Linked DNA regions of Homo sapiens: region 2 is linked to region 1. Evidence: fine-mapped expression QTL. A gene starts in region 1. The other region holds a variant in brackets. All regions are shown on one strand. Distances are between the middles of the regions. Region 1 holds the start of ZHX2-AS1 (ZHX2 antisense RNA 2). Region 2 overlaps ZHX2 (zinc fingers and homeoboxes 2).

Evidence for each region.
Region 2: its variant is fine-mapped to the expression of ZHX2-AS1 in caudate (GTEx, PIP above 0.99).

What each region holds. Positions count from the first base shown.
Region 1 is chr8:122,776,680-122,785,011 of GRCh38, reverse strand. ZHX2-AS1 (ZHX2 antisense RNA 2) reads left to right here and starts at 3,408. Exons shown (of 2, transcript XR_007061082.1): 1 at 3,408-4,839; 2 at 6,815-7,128. ZHX2 (zinc fingers and homeoboxes 2) reads right to left here and starts at 3,357. Exons shown (of 4, transcript NM_014943.5): 1 at 3,066-3,357. RefSeq lists silencers at 1,366-1,445, 2,226-2,355, 2,576-2,645 and enhancers at 1,506-2,040, 2,696-2,745, 3,913-4,412, 4,413-4,914.
Region 2 is chr8:122,833,767-122,842,098 of GRCh38, reverse strand. The region is part of intron 1 of ZHX2 (zinc fingers and homeoboxes 2); the gene reads right to left. Among named protein-coding and RNA genes, the nearest start is that of ZHX2, 56 kb to the right of the region's middle. RefSeq lists enhancers at 3,650-4,481, 5,129-6,328. The variant T/A (reference allele first, on the strand shown) is at 4,318.

The DNA of each region.
Region 1 (8,332 bases):
AGAGGGCAGGGGGTGTGTATCCCACCAGCATCTCCATAATGTCTGGAGCATGCAGTGCTTTGCGTTTCTGCCAGGGGGGCTCTGTCTCCCCAGCATTTCCATACATCTGGTTATGCGCTCTGCATTGCAACAGCAGAGTGTGTGTGTTCTGGGGGCTGCCACTCCGCTTACTAGCTGTTTGGACTTGGGCAAGTTAGCTAACTTACCTGGGCTTGTGCCTCCTCATCTAGAAAAAGGAGAGAATGAGAGTACTTACATCAGAGTTGTCATGAAGACAAAATAGTCTAGTCATAAGCACTTGGGATAGTGCCTGGCATACAAAAATGCTTAATGGCTATGGGTTCTTATTAGTATAATGAACATTATAGTTGCTGAATGAATAAATAAATCAACACACAGTTGCTAAATAAATGAATAAAGGAATAAAATCCAGGTAAATTCTGAAGTTCGGACCTCAGGACAGTGGCTACTGTTCCCTCTTTTCTGCTGGACCTGACCCTTTACTTTTTTATTCTAACTGTGACGTCGTGTATCTGAATGCTGCTACAATGGACTGGTTAAGGCTATGAAGTTAGGCCTGGATTTGCTTTTTGCTGTGTCGCTCAGGCAAGTTTCTTCACCTCTTGGAGCCTCTGTTTCCTCAACCATAAACGGAGGATAATAGTAGTACTTAGCTCACAGGATTGTGGTGAGAATTAAATGATAAAGCACGTAAAATATACAGCATTGTGCCTCACACACCATAACAGTGTTAGAAACTGTTATCAAACATTGCCATGATTATTTTTGATAAGTGTACAGCATCCCACCAAATCACATGGTCCTGATGTGGATGAGAAACGCCGGGTGGGGCCACCTTTCAGCATGTCAAGATACACTGCACTTACATCACAGGAATACCCTTTCTTCAGTGCCAACAAACAGTGGTGTTTTCCCCCTTCAAATGGACATTAGTTGAGATAGCTGATGTGCCCCAGAATCTTGGTTTCTTGCATTTTCCCCTGAAGCACAATCTTCAGGTGCATCCTTTAGCTGACAGCAAACCTGGCTAGAAGGAAAGGTACAAGTGCGCAAGAGAACAATCGCGGAGCAGAGCATTTAAACAGCGATGATATTTCCACACATCACCAGTCCAATTATTGTCAGTGACACATTTCAGCCTTACTTGTAGATTTTTTCCCTTCTGGCCTTAAAAGAAGCTGTGTATACAGCTTTACATAACTTTCCCTTTAAACTTAAACCTTTATGGTAGTCCCATTCAACCACTTGACAGCTCCATTAATCTATTTTTACTATTAAACATGCCATTTTACAAGATATTTATTCCACTTGGTCGTCATCCAAACGCTTTTTGACATTACTGCCCTGGGAGTGAACTGCTTAAACTCGCTGCCCTCATAAACAGAAAATCACCTTTTGACTCAAATCTTGAAGAGCTCTCAGAACCTCACCCCCTTCACTTCTACAGGCATTAATTTCTGCCATATATAAAGGAGAGAGTGAGTAAGTGTGTGTGTGTGTGGTTTTAAGAGGGTAATTGTGGGAGGTCTGGGCAATTCAAGAAGTGCTGGGGGAAGGAATCCTCTCCTCTAACTCCATTCTGCTCATCGGGGCCTGCCTGAGACCTGGAGATCTGGTAACTTAACAGAGAGAAAGTGATCAGAGAGCAGGTTGGGGAAGAACTCCAGGGCCTAAAAGGCAGTGTCCCAGGGGGCCAAGCTGAGCAACCACTCTTTAAAAGGGGAGGGGTCGAGGGAAAGTCCTTATTCATCGACTTCTCTCCTTCTCCACGCCCCAGACAAACAAAAGGCCACCGCGAAACAGTTGAAGGTAGAGACCTACTGGCTTTGAAGACTATCAATCAGGTGGAAACCTGAACAAATCACAATTTGGCTTCCTCATCAAGTTTTCTCCCCAGCCTGACAAACCCTCCTCCGCCGCCGCCTCCACCTCCTCCTCCGCCTCCCAGGCTCAGCACAGCTACGAGGCCAAAGGGACCGTCCTGTGATGCCTGCTGGTTTCCAACTTTCCGCTCATCTTCGTCTCCGCAGCCTCCTGCAAAGCGGCTGGGAAAAGGGCAAGTTTGCAAAGCCGAGGATACAAGTCCTGGGGAAGCCACAAAGAAGCTGCAACACCAACAAAGATTAACCTCTTGTGGGGCAGACGAAAAGCGCCAGCTGCCGTTCAGGGGGGCGAACGTGGGCTCGGGCTGGCAGAGGCTCCGGCCAGCTGGCAGCGGACAGCAGGGCCGGGGGTCCCGCGGCCGCCCTCGGCCCCCCGCCCCGCGCGGACTCCCCCTGCACCTGAGCGGGGGTGAGGACAGCGCCGCGCTCCGGCCCTGCCCCCGCCAGGTAGCTCGGCTGCCGCCCGCGCTGCGCGCCCGCTGCCTGCAGCCGCCGGGAGCGACGAGAGCAGAGGCAGCCTCGGCCCACGGCGTCATGCTTCCTGCCACCACATTACGGCGAATCGTCACCGGGAGAGGGGAGCGAGGGGAGAGGGGGAGGGAGGGGAGCAGACACACGCAGCCCCCCGCCTGCCAAAACGCGCGGAGACGGGGCCACGTCCCGGTGGAGTCCCCGCGGGACCTGCCCCGTTTGCACAAAGCGCCGCAGTTTGGCCAAGAAGGGAGGGAGACGGCCACGAAATAAATAAATAAAAACAGTCGGGTCTACGTAACGCCCTGTCGAAAGCGGACGCCATATTTTTTTGTGGCTTATGTCGACATAGGGAAACGTAGACATGTTTTTCCTCCTCCTCCTCCTCCTCCTCGCTCTGGCTCCCATTTATCCAAACTTGTAATCAAAACTCTTAAAAAAAAAATCTTCTTCCCTCTCTGTATCCGCTCATTTCCTCCCACCCGCAAAAAGAGCCTGCACACCCCCCCCCTTCCGTACCCCCCTTCCAATCACAAACCCGGCCAAGTCCCATTAACAACACATTTTCGGGAGCCGCGGCGGCGACGGCGGCGGTGGGAAAGTTGGGCTGGAGTGGCCGGCGCCCGGCGTGCGGGGTTTGGGGCCGGCGGCGCCGGCTGGGGGGCTCCGCGCCGAGGCGAAGTTTCTTACCTGCGCTGGGGCTGTGAACGCGGGGACCCGGGCTGGGAACGCGGAGACGCGGCACGGGCGTTCCAAAATGGAACTCTGCTGGCTCCCCCCACCCACTCCCCACTCCCCACCGGGCGCCCGGCTCGGGCTCCGTGGGAAAGAGGGGGAAAGCCAGCCTGCCAGCCAGACAGACAGACAGAAAAAGCCCCCGTACGGAGAACGATGGCCAAAATTTTTAAAAGAAAAAAAAAAAGGAAAAAAAAAGGGAAAAAAAATGCCTCGATCAGTGGGGAATCTACGCCAAAACCCACATGATCTGTAACGTCAGCATGCGTATTTGCATACGATACCACCACCCGAGCTGCCACCCGGGCTCGGGTTCCGCAGAAAGTTACAAAGTGAAATTCAGCCCCCTCCGGAGACACCGGCGAAATGTCATTTTTCAGGCAGGAGCTGGGGGGGAGGCTAGCCCTAAAGGCGCTGGTTACTGGCCAAGGTAGGGGGGCAGTAAATTAACTTAAAAGTCTGAGCCCAGTAACGGACTCGGTGGAATTTCTGCGAGAAGAGGAGGGGGAGGCGCGAGCGAGATCATTGAATATTAAGCACGACCCCGCGCGGCGGCCGCGGCCAAACCGTCTCCGTGCAATACCCATTTTCTTTATGAAAAGTTCAAGGTGTCACTGATGAGCTCAACAAACTGTTGATCTTGACCACGTGGAGTGGCGGACCGTGGGACCGAAGGGCGCGCTTGCAGGCCCGGCTCTGGCGGTACCCGGGCCCCGGGACCCTTTGCGTGGGACTGTGCGCGGGTGGGGCCACCACGCACCCTGGGCGCTGCCTGCGCCTTGGCCCGGCTTCAGGCTCAGGAAAATAATAATAACGATTTTAAAACTATGTTGAGCGAGACACATTTTACTCCCGGAATGATAATGAGAAGGCTCGGCGTAGGGAGGGGAAGAAGGAGCCCCCCACTTATATAACGACTTGAAGTTATATCACTTTTGCTTGGGGAGATTCCGGGATTTCCGCCCGCGCCAGGTCTGAGGCTGGTTAAAGATCTTCAAACTTTTTTCCCTTAAGAGCCAATAAACAAACAGACGCCCCAGGGGCCGACTTAAACTCTGGTAGAGCCCGAGTTCGCTGGAATTCTCAGATTCGAAGAAATGCACACGCCTGCGGTGCTCGCAGAGAAGTCCCTCGGAAGCTAGGCGGGTCGCTTTCGCAACTGGGACTCCAATGTTCCCAGTGGGAGCGGAGCTCTCACCGCGGCAGCCCCCAGGTTCCCCTAGGCGCCTTAGAGCAAAGGTGGCGGGGGATCGCGCTGCCCTTCGCCCGCCGGCTCGGAACCATGAACTTGTATTCCGGGCGCCGCGCTCCTGCCACAGTGCTCGGCTAAAGAGCTCTAAGGAATTCGGGATCTGGGTACACTTCGGGATCTCAGGCGGCAACCTGTCTGCGCCGCGCATTCCTGCCCAGATGTACCTTGTTTCCCCCTGGGCTGGCCTGTGGACTCTTGGGCAGCTCCCGGGCGGGGACGAGGGGATGCGGTCTGGGGGCTAGTTTAGAAGCTTCGAGCGCAGCGAGAAAACAAAGGGAGCCTGGGGCTGGGAGGCTCTGCGGAGTCCCCGCCCGCCCTGCAGATTAGCAGGCGCGTCGCGTCGGGGCTTCCCGGGCAGCTCTGCTCTGGGGAATTAGAACGAACTCTAGCGGCCGTTTGCAACTCGGCTGTGGGCGCGAGGGCATCAACAGGTGGCCGTGTGCAGCGGAGAGGCCAATGGCGAGGACCCGGACTGGGGTGAGGACGGCTGGCCTTGGGGCTGACTGGGTGGCGGATGCGCTGGGTGACCTTTTGGCTTTTTCATTTCCGAGGCCGGGGAGAAGGAAGTAGCTAAAAGGTTTTTGTAAGTTCTGCCCTAGGGCTCTAATTTCTGACATACCCCTTGACTCCCCAGAAATCCTTTGCAACAAAAATTAAAACAGCTCATATGCAAAACTTTCTTAATGGCCTGCACCTGTTTGTTCGGTTATTGCTGATGTAGGGTCTGTTTGTTTGCATTTTAACCGCCCATAAAACAAGATTCTATCCTGGGAAGGAGTCTCTTGCGTGATGCTCGCGGACCTGAAAGGCGACCTGGAGGGGCTCTTACAGGATTCTGTTAACTTCTTGATGACTGTAATCCAGCTTGGGCCACATCTTTCTCAGCCTCATTTGGTACCGGCTAAGAACCTAATTTACTTGCCATCAACATCAGAATTTACCGCTGCCTGATCTCCTCCCAACCTCTGCCTCACCCAGGGTGAACCAAAATTGTAAAAAGAAAAGAAAAAAATATGGGACCCTCCCCCCATTCCCCCGCCTTGTCCCGTCCCGCCGGCCACACCAACTTCAACATTTTTACATCGCTTACCTTATTATGCCCCTTGCAGGCTATTCCACGCCCTGCCCCCCCCCCCTTTAAAATAAGTCTAGTTCTGTCTGTTTCCATGGAAATTACCCAAACCTTAACGAAGCTATTCCTATTTTGAGGCTGCACCTCCTCTGGATGATCAATCACTTAGGAGGGTTTTCTATAAGCCAAGTTTCCCTTGCTGCCACCTCACTGCCACCTGCTTCTGGCTGGGTGACAGATTGTATGTAGGGTGGAATGGGCCAGGTGGGAGGGAAGCCAGGTAACCCTCTAAACAGTCTGCTGGGTTCTCATATCTTCAGAGCACTTGGATCTCATGGACACTAGCAAGGATGAGGGGCTTCTGATGTGTTGCAGTGTTTTAAAATTGTTCAGAGTTTAGCATGGACTGAACTTGCACCATATAAAGAGAAAACAATGAGGAATAAGACAAAGGTGGCTTTTGCTTTATGTGGTATGATCCCTGTTTGCTTGAAGTATACTCATGGAGTAGACAGACCGTTATCTGACAGTATTTAGGAGCTTCAGAATCAATAATGTTGGACAAGTAAATGTTCAGCCAGGAAGTAACGTATGCCACTTTCACTTACAACTCATTGGTCAGAACTAAACACAAAGTTAACTGTAAAGATCCATGGAAGTATTGTGTGCCTGGAAATGGAGAGAATGGGAAAGATTTGCACTAATATGATAGCACTAAGGACTATCATAAATAATAATAGCAGTTCACAATTATTGATCATTTACCATGTGCTGAGCCTTTTATATGTATCATCTCATTGAATCATCACAAAAATCTATATTTTGTCTTTATTTTACCGATATAGAAACTGAGACTTAAAGAGCTTAAGTACTGTACCTTGCTCGACATCACACAGATGCTAAGTAATGGAGTTGGAATTTAAGCTTAATTTTACCTGCTTCCCAGAGAATAGACTTTTAAAACACTGTCCTCAACCACCTTTGGACTTAATTGGTCCCCTGTTGTTGGGCATTGGGTAGTTTCAATTTTATTCCAATGAACAACCTTGTGTCAGATCTTTTGAATCATCTGCGATTACTTCCTTAGGATAAATTCCTAGGTACATATTTGCTTAGTTGAAATATACACACATTTCAAGAATAAAAACCTTTTGCAAAAAGTGAAAGCTTTAGGAGGTGTGGTAGTCTTCTAAGATGGCTTTTTTCAATCCTTTCCTTCCTTTTTTGAAAAATACATCACCATTAAGAGGTGGAGTTTACTTCCCCTCCCTTGGAATCTGGACTGGTCCTGTGATTGCTTTGGATGCAATGAAAGTGATATTCTGAGACATCTAAATCCAAGTCTTAAGAGACTGGCAGTTTCTGTTTCCTTCCTTTTAGGGTCCTGCTGCCATGCTGTGAGAAGCCGAAGTTTCATGGAGAGGCCACATGGAGTGAAAACAAAGGTGATAGGGACAATAGCTCCACCTGAGATCCTGATTAATACACAGACTTTAGCCATCTTGGATGCTCCAGCCTAATCGATCTCCCACTTGACTCTAGTCTCACCTGACATTATGTAGAGGAAAACCATCCAGCTCCACCTAGTCAACCCACAGAATAATGAGATGATCATAAGACTGTAGTTGTTTAACATTATTAACTTTTGGGGTGGTTTATTACACAGTGATAGATAAATAAAATGGGAGTTATTATCCGTGTCTTTATTTGCACATATATCTGAATATTTCAGATCTACTTCCCCCTGAACTCTGCAGGGTATAGGTAGCATTGTGAAATATTGGAGGCCAGGACAAGGGGTAGAGAGGCCTCTTGGTCCATGATGCCTGAGCTGGCCCACTCTCCAAATCAAAGCTTTTCTTGATTTTAGTTGTTGCTCATGAAGGATCCCGCGCCACAGGTCCCAGATCCTAAGCAAATAAGAACTCATTTATCAAGCATAGATACTCAGTAGGTACTGGAGTTAAGTTCCTGTTTGGTGTTGCCAAAAACAGAGGTTTCCATTATTTAAGGATATACACTGTGATAGGGAGTGCAAGTGCCCACCATGTACATGGCTGCCTGGGAGGTGCTTCTTATACTTTATGTAATTTAATCTTTTAAACAACCTTCTGAATAGTATATTGTCTCCTTAATTTGTGGGAGAAAACAAGTTTATAGAAGCTTATGAATTATCCATGGGCCATACAGCTGATAAGTTAGAAGCAGGTCTTGAGCCCACATTTGATTGATTACAAATCCTGCCTGCTTCCCACTATACTTGTGACTTGCAAATTAACTCATGTGCAAACCCCCTTCACCAATTTTGTCCCAGTAGCAAAGGAACTACCTATAGTATTTTTAATTTAACATTTTATTTGGCCAGGGTCATGGCTCACACCTGCAATCCCAGCACTTTGGGAGGCTGAGGCAGGTGGATCATTTGAGGTCAGGAGTTTGAGACCAGCCTGGCCAACATGGTGAAACCCCATCTCTACTAAAAACAAAAAAAAATTAGCCAGGTGTGGTGGTGAGTGCCTGTAATCCCAGCTACTCAGGAGGCTGAGGCAGGAGAATCGCTTGAACCGGGGAGGCAGAGGTTACAGTGAGCCAAGATTGTACCACTTCCAGCCTGGTGACAAAGCTAGACTCTGTCTCAAAAAAAAAAAAAAAAAAAAAAAAAAAGAAAACATTTTATTTACATTGATTCACATTTTTAAAACTTAAATGCACTTATTTCATACTAATACTAAAGAAGCCTTTTGTCACAATAGAAACAAGAAAATCCAATATTGAATTTTCAAATGAACCAATGAAAGGTAACAGTGAAAATAACCATGGGAAAAAAAAAACAGCACTATTGAGCTAGCTAGATACTCTTATTTGCAGAAGGTAGAGATGGAGGGGAAAGGTGTTAGA
Region 2 (8,332 bases), 57 kb before region 1:
CGCTTCCAAAGCCAGTGCCCTTCTCACTGTGCCCCAGGAGCTCGTGCTCATTTGTTTGTTCCTTCTTCGTGTCTCTAAGAGTGGGCTCTACAGTCAAGCACTATGTCTGCGCACATTTCCCCAGAGCTGACCATAAGGGAGAGAGCTAGGGAGGACTTGGAGTCTTCATATCTCATACTGAGACTTCATATCTCAGTACAAGTTTAGGTTGTCACTGGGTAGCTAAGCCACTGAGTTACCATCTAAGGGCTTCAGTTTCCTCATCTGTAAAATGGGGGATAACATCTGATCTCACACAGACGCTTAGCGGCTCAAATACAATCACATACATGAAGAGGCTTTCCGAGCTGTCAATCAGCTCCACAAAAGCAGGGGCTTGGGAGGAAAGGGAGGCTTCATCACCATGTCTAGCCAGAACCACTCTCTCTAGCTGGAGGGCTGAAACACCCTCAAAGCAATCAGAGAACAATTAAGCATTCAGCTGCCTGCTAAATGTGAACTCACACTGTGCCTCTCTGCTCAGGCTGCCCCTCTGCCTGGATTGCCCCCCAACCCCCGACCCTCCAAGTGCCCTGTATGTACAAGAACTCTGTGTAGTTCACGGTCTGTTCCTGACTCCCTACTGTGAGGCAGGAGGTGGGTTTTGCAACCCCAAAATGTCTGGCACCTGCAAGGTGTGCTCAGGAAGTGGTGGATAGGGAGATCTCTAGGCCTTAGAGAAGGCCTTTCAGGTGGCTAAATGCTTCAGGGAATTCTTATGATGCGCCACTGGATTGAATACAGGAAAGACACGGGCTTTAAACCAGGCGGAAGTCACCGGCTGACTTCCCGCTATCCCCAGGCCTCTAGCGCCTTTGTCATCTGCTCCACCGTTTGAGAGTTCTCATTAGGGCTAGTGGTTTCCTGCAGGGAAGTGTCAGGGGAAGACAGGCAGGGAGGAAGGGGAAGCAGGAACCAGCAACGCTCCACCTGGCAGCAGTACGTAATGCTGCTGCTAAAACGAAAGAAAGACAAGAACCAAGGGCCAGGTAAACAGTCAATGCTCAGTGTTCGAAACAAGAGTTTTCATGTATCTGGCTGATTCTCCTGCTTCTCTGTGTTTTCCGGGTGTGGAGGATGAACGGAGGCATGCAGAGGAAACATGGCACCATGGTGCAAAGAGCTGTTGGCAGGTGAACAGGAGATTCGGGCTTTTCCTCCCACTCTGCCCTGACAAGCTGAGTGACCTTGAGCAAGTCACACTGGATTTCAGGGTCTTGCTCTTTAAAATGGGTACTGACAATGGGGAGAGGTTTAATTGTTCTCTAAAGGATAAAGCAAACAACACAGAAAAGGAAGTAATGGCCACAGGTCCAGCAAAGCAAAATAAGTTTAAGCTGACACTGTTCTGGCCAGGGTCCTTCCATGAAAACCCAACAGTAATGACAATGACAGTGACGATGGTGACTACTCTTATTTATTGAGTATGCACTGAGCATGAGGCATGGGACAAGTACTTTCTGTGCTTGTAATGAATTTTCTGTGCAATGTAATGACAAGTGTAATGTAAGCCACTTTTAACGTAAAGCACTTTTTCTATGCAATGTAATGACAAGCACTCATCACAATGGTTAATCTTCACAACGGCCCTTTAAGGTAGATACTATCATTATTCCCATTTTGCAGTTGGGCAAATTGATGCACAGAGAAGTTAAACCTGGGATCAGGGACTGGCGAGTGGGAGAGCTAGGATTTGAACCTAGGGTGTCTGATTCCAGAACCTACCTTCTTTCCCACGACACTCTACCAAACTTGGAAGTCTGTATTTCCACAGTTAGGAAAGAGTAACTGTGGGAAGAGTAAAGGACTTAGGCAATTACAATAATTAATCATTTTCTAAACAGAAGACTCAGTCTGGAAAGACCACACTTGGAGCATGCACAAATTCAAAATCTACTAAATTATTCCTAGTGCAGGAAGCACGTCTCAGGAAGTTGGTTTAAACAAAGGTAGAATAGGTGCCCTGGAGCTAGCCTGGCACTTAGAGTCAGACAATCTGGATTCTAGTCCAGTGGCCCCATGTACCAGCCTCTTCTGCTGGGGTCAGGGAGCCACTTCAGAGCCCATTTTCTCACCCTTCAGGCAGTGAAGTGCCAGAATATATATTTCTCAACCTTCAGGCAGTGACCTCTCCACTCACAGATCTAGCTCAGAATAGAGGGTCCCATCAATGTCCACCTTCTCCACAACACAAAGTTTAAAAGATTCTGTCTCTCATACATTAATTATCTATTAACAAAATAACCAGGCATATGTATAACTGCTGGAGTTTCTGAACAAAACGAGGTAACCATTGTTATCCAATTGCAGCCCGAAGCAAAAACAAAACCAAACCCCCCACGATCCCATGCCACCCCGTGCCACCATATCCTGGGGACTGTACAACTTGCAGTGATTTCTGGAAATACTCCCTGTATTGTGGACTTTTAGGAAAACACTGGCCTAAACTGTTCCTAAGGCCTCTTCCAATACCAAGTTCTATAGTTCTACAAAATTATGTCCATAAGTGTGCTTTGCTAATTGCAAACATATCATTGAGGTTCTTATTTTGTTCCCTTAATGCTGGAAAGGTAAAAAACAGGGAGGACCCCTTGGAGTCCAAAGGAGGTCATCTGAGGATACGAGCCGGGCAGGCCTCTGCCACTTCACACCGAGGGTGGAAAACACATGGAAGTCACTGGGCCCGAGAGGCTGTACCAGCTAAAAATATAAACAAGTGGAAGAAGGGTTTAGATGAACTCATGGGTGAGTGAATGATGGGGTGAGGGAAGTTGGAAATGTTCAGATTTTGTCCATTGCTTGTGCAACCTGCTCTGTTCTCTGTTAGCAATAGAATACTTGGCTGAATGGAGTGCGGATGGGCCCACAGAGAGCAATGCCACATTCTAGTGTGTGCCCAAGATAAAAAAAGAAGGAAGGGAAAAAAAAAGTAATGAGGGTATAGTGGGGTTCCCTGCTCCAACATATAACTTCTATAATCATACACGAAAAACCCTTTGGAATACATGTAGAAATGAAAGAAAGAAAAATAATAATTTCTGATTTGATCTCTAAAGATCTCAACTTTGTTAACATTTTGCTGTAATTTCATCATGCATTATGTGTTTTTCTTAAATAAAAACTATATATACAGTATGAATCCTGCATTTTTCATTTAACATTTACCACTTTAAAAAAATCACATTGGCCAGGCATGGTGGCTCACGCTTGTAATTCCAGCACTCTGGGAGGGCAAGGCGGGCAGATCATGCGGTCAGGAGTTCCAGACCAGCCTGGCCAACAGGTGAAACCCCGTCTCTACTAAAAATACAAAAATTAGCTGGGTGTAGTGGCACGTGCTTGTAGTCCCAGCTACTCGGGAGGCTGAGGCAGGAATGAATCGCTTGAACCTGGGAGATGGAAGTTGCAGTGAGCCGAGATCGAGCCACTGCACTCCAGCCTGGGTGACAGAGTGAACTCTGTCTCAAAAAAAAAAAAAAAAAAAAATCACATTACTAAATACTGTAGACTTCATATATGATCGAAAGGTTTCTACCACGTATTTAACCATTTATTTATTTAATTGTTTAATTATCGTACTATTCACCTCTTGTTGAACCTTGTTTTCTTTTCCCAGTTTTCTGCTGTATAAACACGCTGGGACTGACATGCCTCGTTACTTCTTTTTGGAGAAATAACAATAAATCTCCAAATCTCAGAGTAGAACATGTAATGAGTTTCTCTTACATAGACAAAGGGCATGTGAGGGATGGGCACACGAGGAATATTCGCCAGGGTGTCTGTGGTGACTTGATGTAATACCATTTTTAAACGTTCCTTGATACCCAGGAAGTGCCCCTGGCACCCCACTGTGCTGTGCTTTCTGCTCTCTTCCCACAGCTATTTGTTTTTGTAGAAGATTCTTCCCTTGCTCTGCAAACTGAGAGCACTTGGAGAGCTACAGAGATGTGCAGCCACTGGGCTAAAGCACACCCAGACGGGGCTCTTATTAGAAATGCAAATCTCCTCTCTGCTGACAAATCCCAAACACAAAGCTCAACGGGCTCTTCCACCCTCCTCTCCCCTAAGCGGGTGGCCTCTGTCTTCCATGTTACCTGAATGAGCTGAAAGGGAGTTGGCTGGGTTGTGGATCAGTAATCTGAGAAGGAAAGGGTCTGTCTGAAATGGAATTGTCTCCCCAGTGTTTCCATTTTACCCAATAAGAGGAAGTCAGTCTCTTTCTTCTCAGCCTTAACTCTACTAAAAGCCATTAAGCACCGACAAAGACAGGAGACATTA[T/A]CTGTTGGCAAGTGTGAATGCTGCATTCTGTACCTCCAGCAGGGATGGAAATTGAGCTGTTTACTTGGTGGCCACCCCAAGGGACTGAAATGAAGCTCTAATGTGACAGCATTTCTGAAATGCCAGTTTTAAATCCCAAATTCTCACCCTCTATTCCCCACCTGTAAAACGCACTAGGAATTTGCACTATTAGCACTATTAATTTAGCCGAATTACACCCTGACTAGATCTGACCACCAGATGCAAATGAAGTCACCAGTAGGTGACCACAGTAACCTGGGTCTGGTTTTGGAAAGGAGGGTGGGTGTTTGAAACCTGTAGGGGTAGTGGCAGGACCAGCTTATGGAATAACTTTCCTTATTACAAGTGACTTCCAGGATGGGGCTCACGATTAGAGATGGGGGTCTGGAACCCATTGCTCAGATGGGGTTTCCTTTGATGGTCAGTAATACAGTTACTGGAAAGGGGTCCAGATCTAGATCCCAAGAGAGGGTTCTTGGATCCTGCACAAGAAAGAATTCAGGGCGAGTCCATAAAGTGAAAGCAAGTTTATTAAGAAAGTAAAGGAATAAAATAATGGCTACTCCATAGGGGTTGCCCATTTTTATGGTTATTTCTTGATGATATGCTAAACAAGGGGTGGATTCTTCATGCCTCCCCTTTTTAGACCATATAGGGTACCTTCCTGACGTTGCCATGGTGTTTGTAAACTGTCATGATGCTGGTGGGAGTGTAGCAGTGAGGATGACCAGAGGGTCACTCTGGTCAAAATCTTGATTTTCGTGGGTTTGGGCCAGCTTATTTACTGCAAGCTGTTTTATCTGCAAGGTCTTTATGACCTGTATCTTGTGCGGACCTCCTACCTCATCCTGTGCCTTAGAATGCCCTAATTGTCTGGAAATGCAGCCCAGTAGTGTAAGATTCTCCCTGGGGCCTGAAAGCTTAAGGGGATGAATAACTCCTCCCTTCTCAGGCCCAGTACCAAGGCGCAAGCCTTGCGCCAGCAGTGTGGGCCAGCAAAATAGCAGAAGCAGGAAGAAAGCCGGCCGGAAGACACCTACCCTGGCTGGAAGACACGTACCCGTGAAGATCAAGAAAGAGGCCATCCAGGTACAACGTAGCAGTTACGTCAGACTAGGACACTTCCTGTTTACAGGAGACTATAAAATCTTTGCCCTGTCCTCACTTGGTGCTGATGCCATTTTAGGCCTCAGCCCGCCTGCACCCAGGAACTCATTAAAACAGCATGTTGCTCCACACCGCCTCGTGTTGTCTGTTGGTTCGAACGCGCGCTCTCCGGGTTCGAACCGATACAAGAACCTTAAGTCAGGTGCCAAAACCGGGGAGGGGCTCAGGTCTGCATCCCCTGTGGACCTACCCCTCCACCCCGGAGAGCAAGCCACAGCAGCCGGACAAAGGAAGCTCCTCAGCCTCCAGTTGCCTCTCTGTGCATGCACATCGGTCACTGATCTCGCCTACTGGTAAGTTTTCCCGGGAGCCCTGTTAACAGGGGAAAATCCACATGGCCTCTCTTGATTTCTCTGGTCCAAAAATCCAACGTTGGTCCAAGAAGGTTCCGGTGTGTGTCAGGCACTTGCTGATCATCTGGCCTTAGGGGGGTGCCTCTAAGCCATTAGATCCTGTTCTGGGAACGAAAATGGCAGCAGTGACAATTGCTCCTTTTATTGTCCCCCTCTTGCTGTCCAGGATGTTCTCCTCTTCCTTGTTCTCTCAGCCTACCCTCTGTTGTGGGAAATTCCCAGTCTTCCACTCCAAAGGACAGCCCTCTAGGCTGCCTCATAAAAAAAAACCCTAAAAACCTTAGGCCTCAGGCAAGATATCTGCCCTAAGTGCTGTGTCTTTTTCGCAATTCAGTCTGGCCACAATACGAATTAAATAATGGGTCCAAATGGCCCGCAAATGAAACATTCAACTTTACAATTTTAACTGACTTAAGCAATTATTGCTGACAACTGAAGAAATGAGAAGTTCCTTATGTCCAGGCCTTTTTATTCTCAAATCACAACCCAACCTCTGCAATTCTTTCTTACCTGTTCAAATCCTTCTCCATTCTTGCCACCCTGATCGCCTTTCTCTTCCCGACCCTACCTCTTTTTCCTCATTAAATCCAGCAGACTGCTGTCCACCCCTCCCAGCCCTTACCTCTTCCTCTCAACCATCTTCTTTAACCCCTGCAAGCCTCCTCGTTGTCTTCTCAGCTGCCATCTTCCCAGTCGCCATCTTCTCAGTAAGCAGTATCCACTTCTTTTCCTACACCGTCCCCTACTCAGGACAATTCTAGTATTGCCTGTACCCATTCTCCTCCCCCACCGCCCTCTCCTGAGGCTTGTAAACCCATCCCACCACCTTACGCCCCTATCCTCCACTGCTTATCAACTCAACCACCCTTCCCCCTTCAAACCCTCAGCAGAAACCACTTCCAGCTTCTTCCTTCTCTCCTGCCCTTACTCGCTCGGGCGCCATCTTTGGCCCATGCCCCGCCCTTACTTCAGCGCCGGTGCTAGAATACCCCCTTCAGAAAGTAGTAGAAAATGAAGGTATTGTTAGAGTTCATGTTTCCTTCTGCCTCACTGATCTCTCTCAAATTAACAAAAGATTCGGTTCATTTCCAGAAGATGCTACCTCTTATATTAGAAAATTTCAGTACCTCACCCAGTCTTATGAACTGACCCGGCATGACCTCTAGGTTATCCTCTCTTCCACCCTCACCCCAGAAGACCAAGACCGTATCTGGACTGTAGCTCAGGCACATGCTGATACCATTCATCACCAAGCTCCTGCCCAGCCTACTGGTGCGGAGGCAGTCCCCAACCAGGACCCCCACTGGGATTATCAAGACAGGGCCTCTGGATGCCACCGTTGAAACCACATAATTGTGTGTCTCCTTGCAGGACTCAAAAAGGGTGCCCATAAAGCGGTAAACTATGAAAAACTTTCAGAAATCACCCAAGGTCCTAATGAAAACCCAGCCCTTTTTCTCTCTCATTTAACTGAAGCCATTAAAAAATATACCAACCTAGACCCAGCTAGCCCAGAAGGAACCACTATCTTAAACCTTCGGTTCATCTCCCAATCCACCACCGATATTCGGCACAAGCTTCAGAAGCTTGATGACGGCCCTCAAACCCCACAATGAGACCTTCTAAATTTAGCCTTCAAAGTCTTTAACAATCGTGATGAGGAAAGTAAAAGGCAAAAACAGGCAGAGTTTCGAATGCTTACCTCTGCCATCAGGGGCCCTGCAGGCCCACGGGGCCATAGCTCCACACGGAAGCCTCCTAGCAATCCACCTCCACCTGGCGCCTGTTTCAAGTGCGGCAATGAAGGTCACAGGTCCAGACAATGCCCAAACCCAGGTAAGCGCACCAGGCCGTGCCCCCTCTGCGGAGGACCCCACTGGAAGTCGGACTATGAGCAGCCCCAGCAAGGACCGCCCCCATCCCTTCCGGAGCCGGCCAAAACCTCCTACTTGGATCTCATCGGCCCTGCCGCTGAAGACTGAGGGTGCCCTGGAACAGACGCCCTGGCAACTACCATCACTTCATCCAAGCCAAGGGTAACCCTGATGGTGGCAGGTGGGCCGGTATGTTATTTTTGAATTAATACCGGGCAACCTACTCTGCTTTACCTAATTTTTCAGGACCCACCCAGTCCTCCCAAGTCTCCGTTGTGGGAATTGAGGGACAAGTCTCCAAACCCTGAGCCAGCCCTCCACTTTTCTGCTCCCTGCACACCTTTTCCTTCACTCACTCTTTTTTTTTTTTGAGACGGAGTCTTGCTCTGTCGCCCAGGCTGGAGTGCAGTGGCGCGATCTCAGCTCACTGCAAGCTCCGCCTCCCGGGTTCACGCCATTCTCCTGCCTCAGCCTCCCGAGTAGCTGGGACTACAGGCGCCCACCACCACGCCCGGCTAATTTTTTGTATTTTTTAGTAGAGATGAGGTTTCACCGTGTTAGCCAGGATGGTCTCGATCTCCTGACCTCGTGATCCACCCG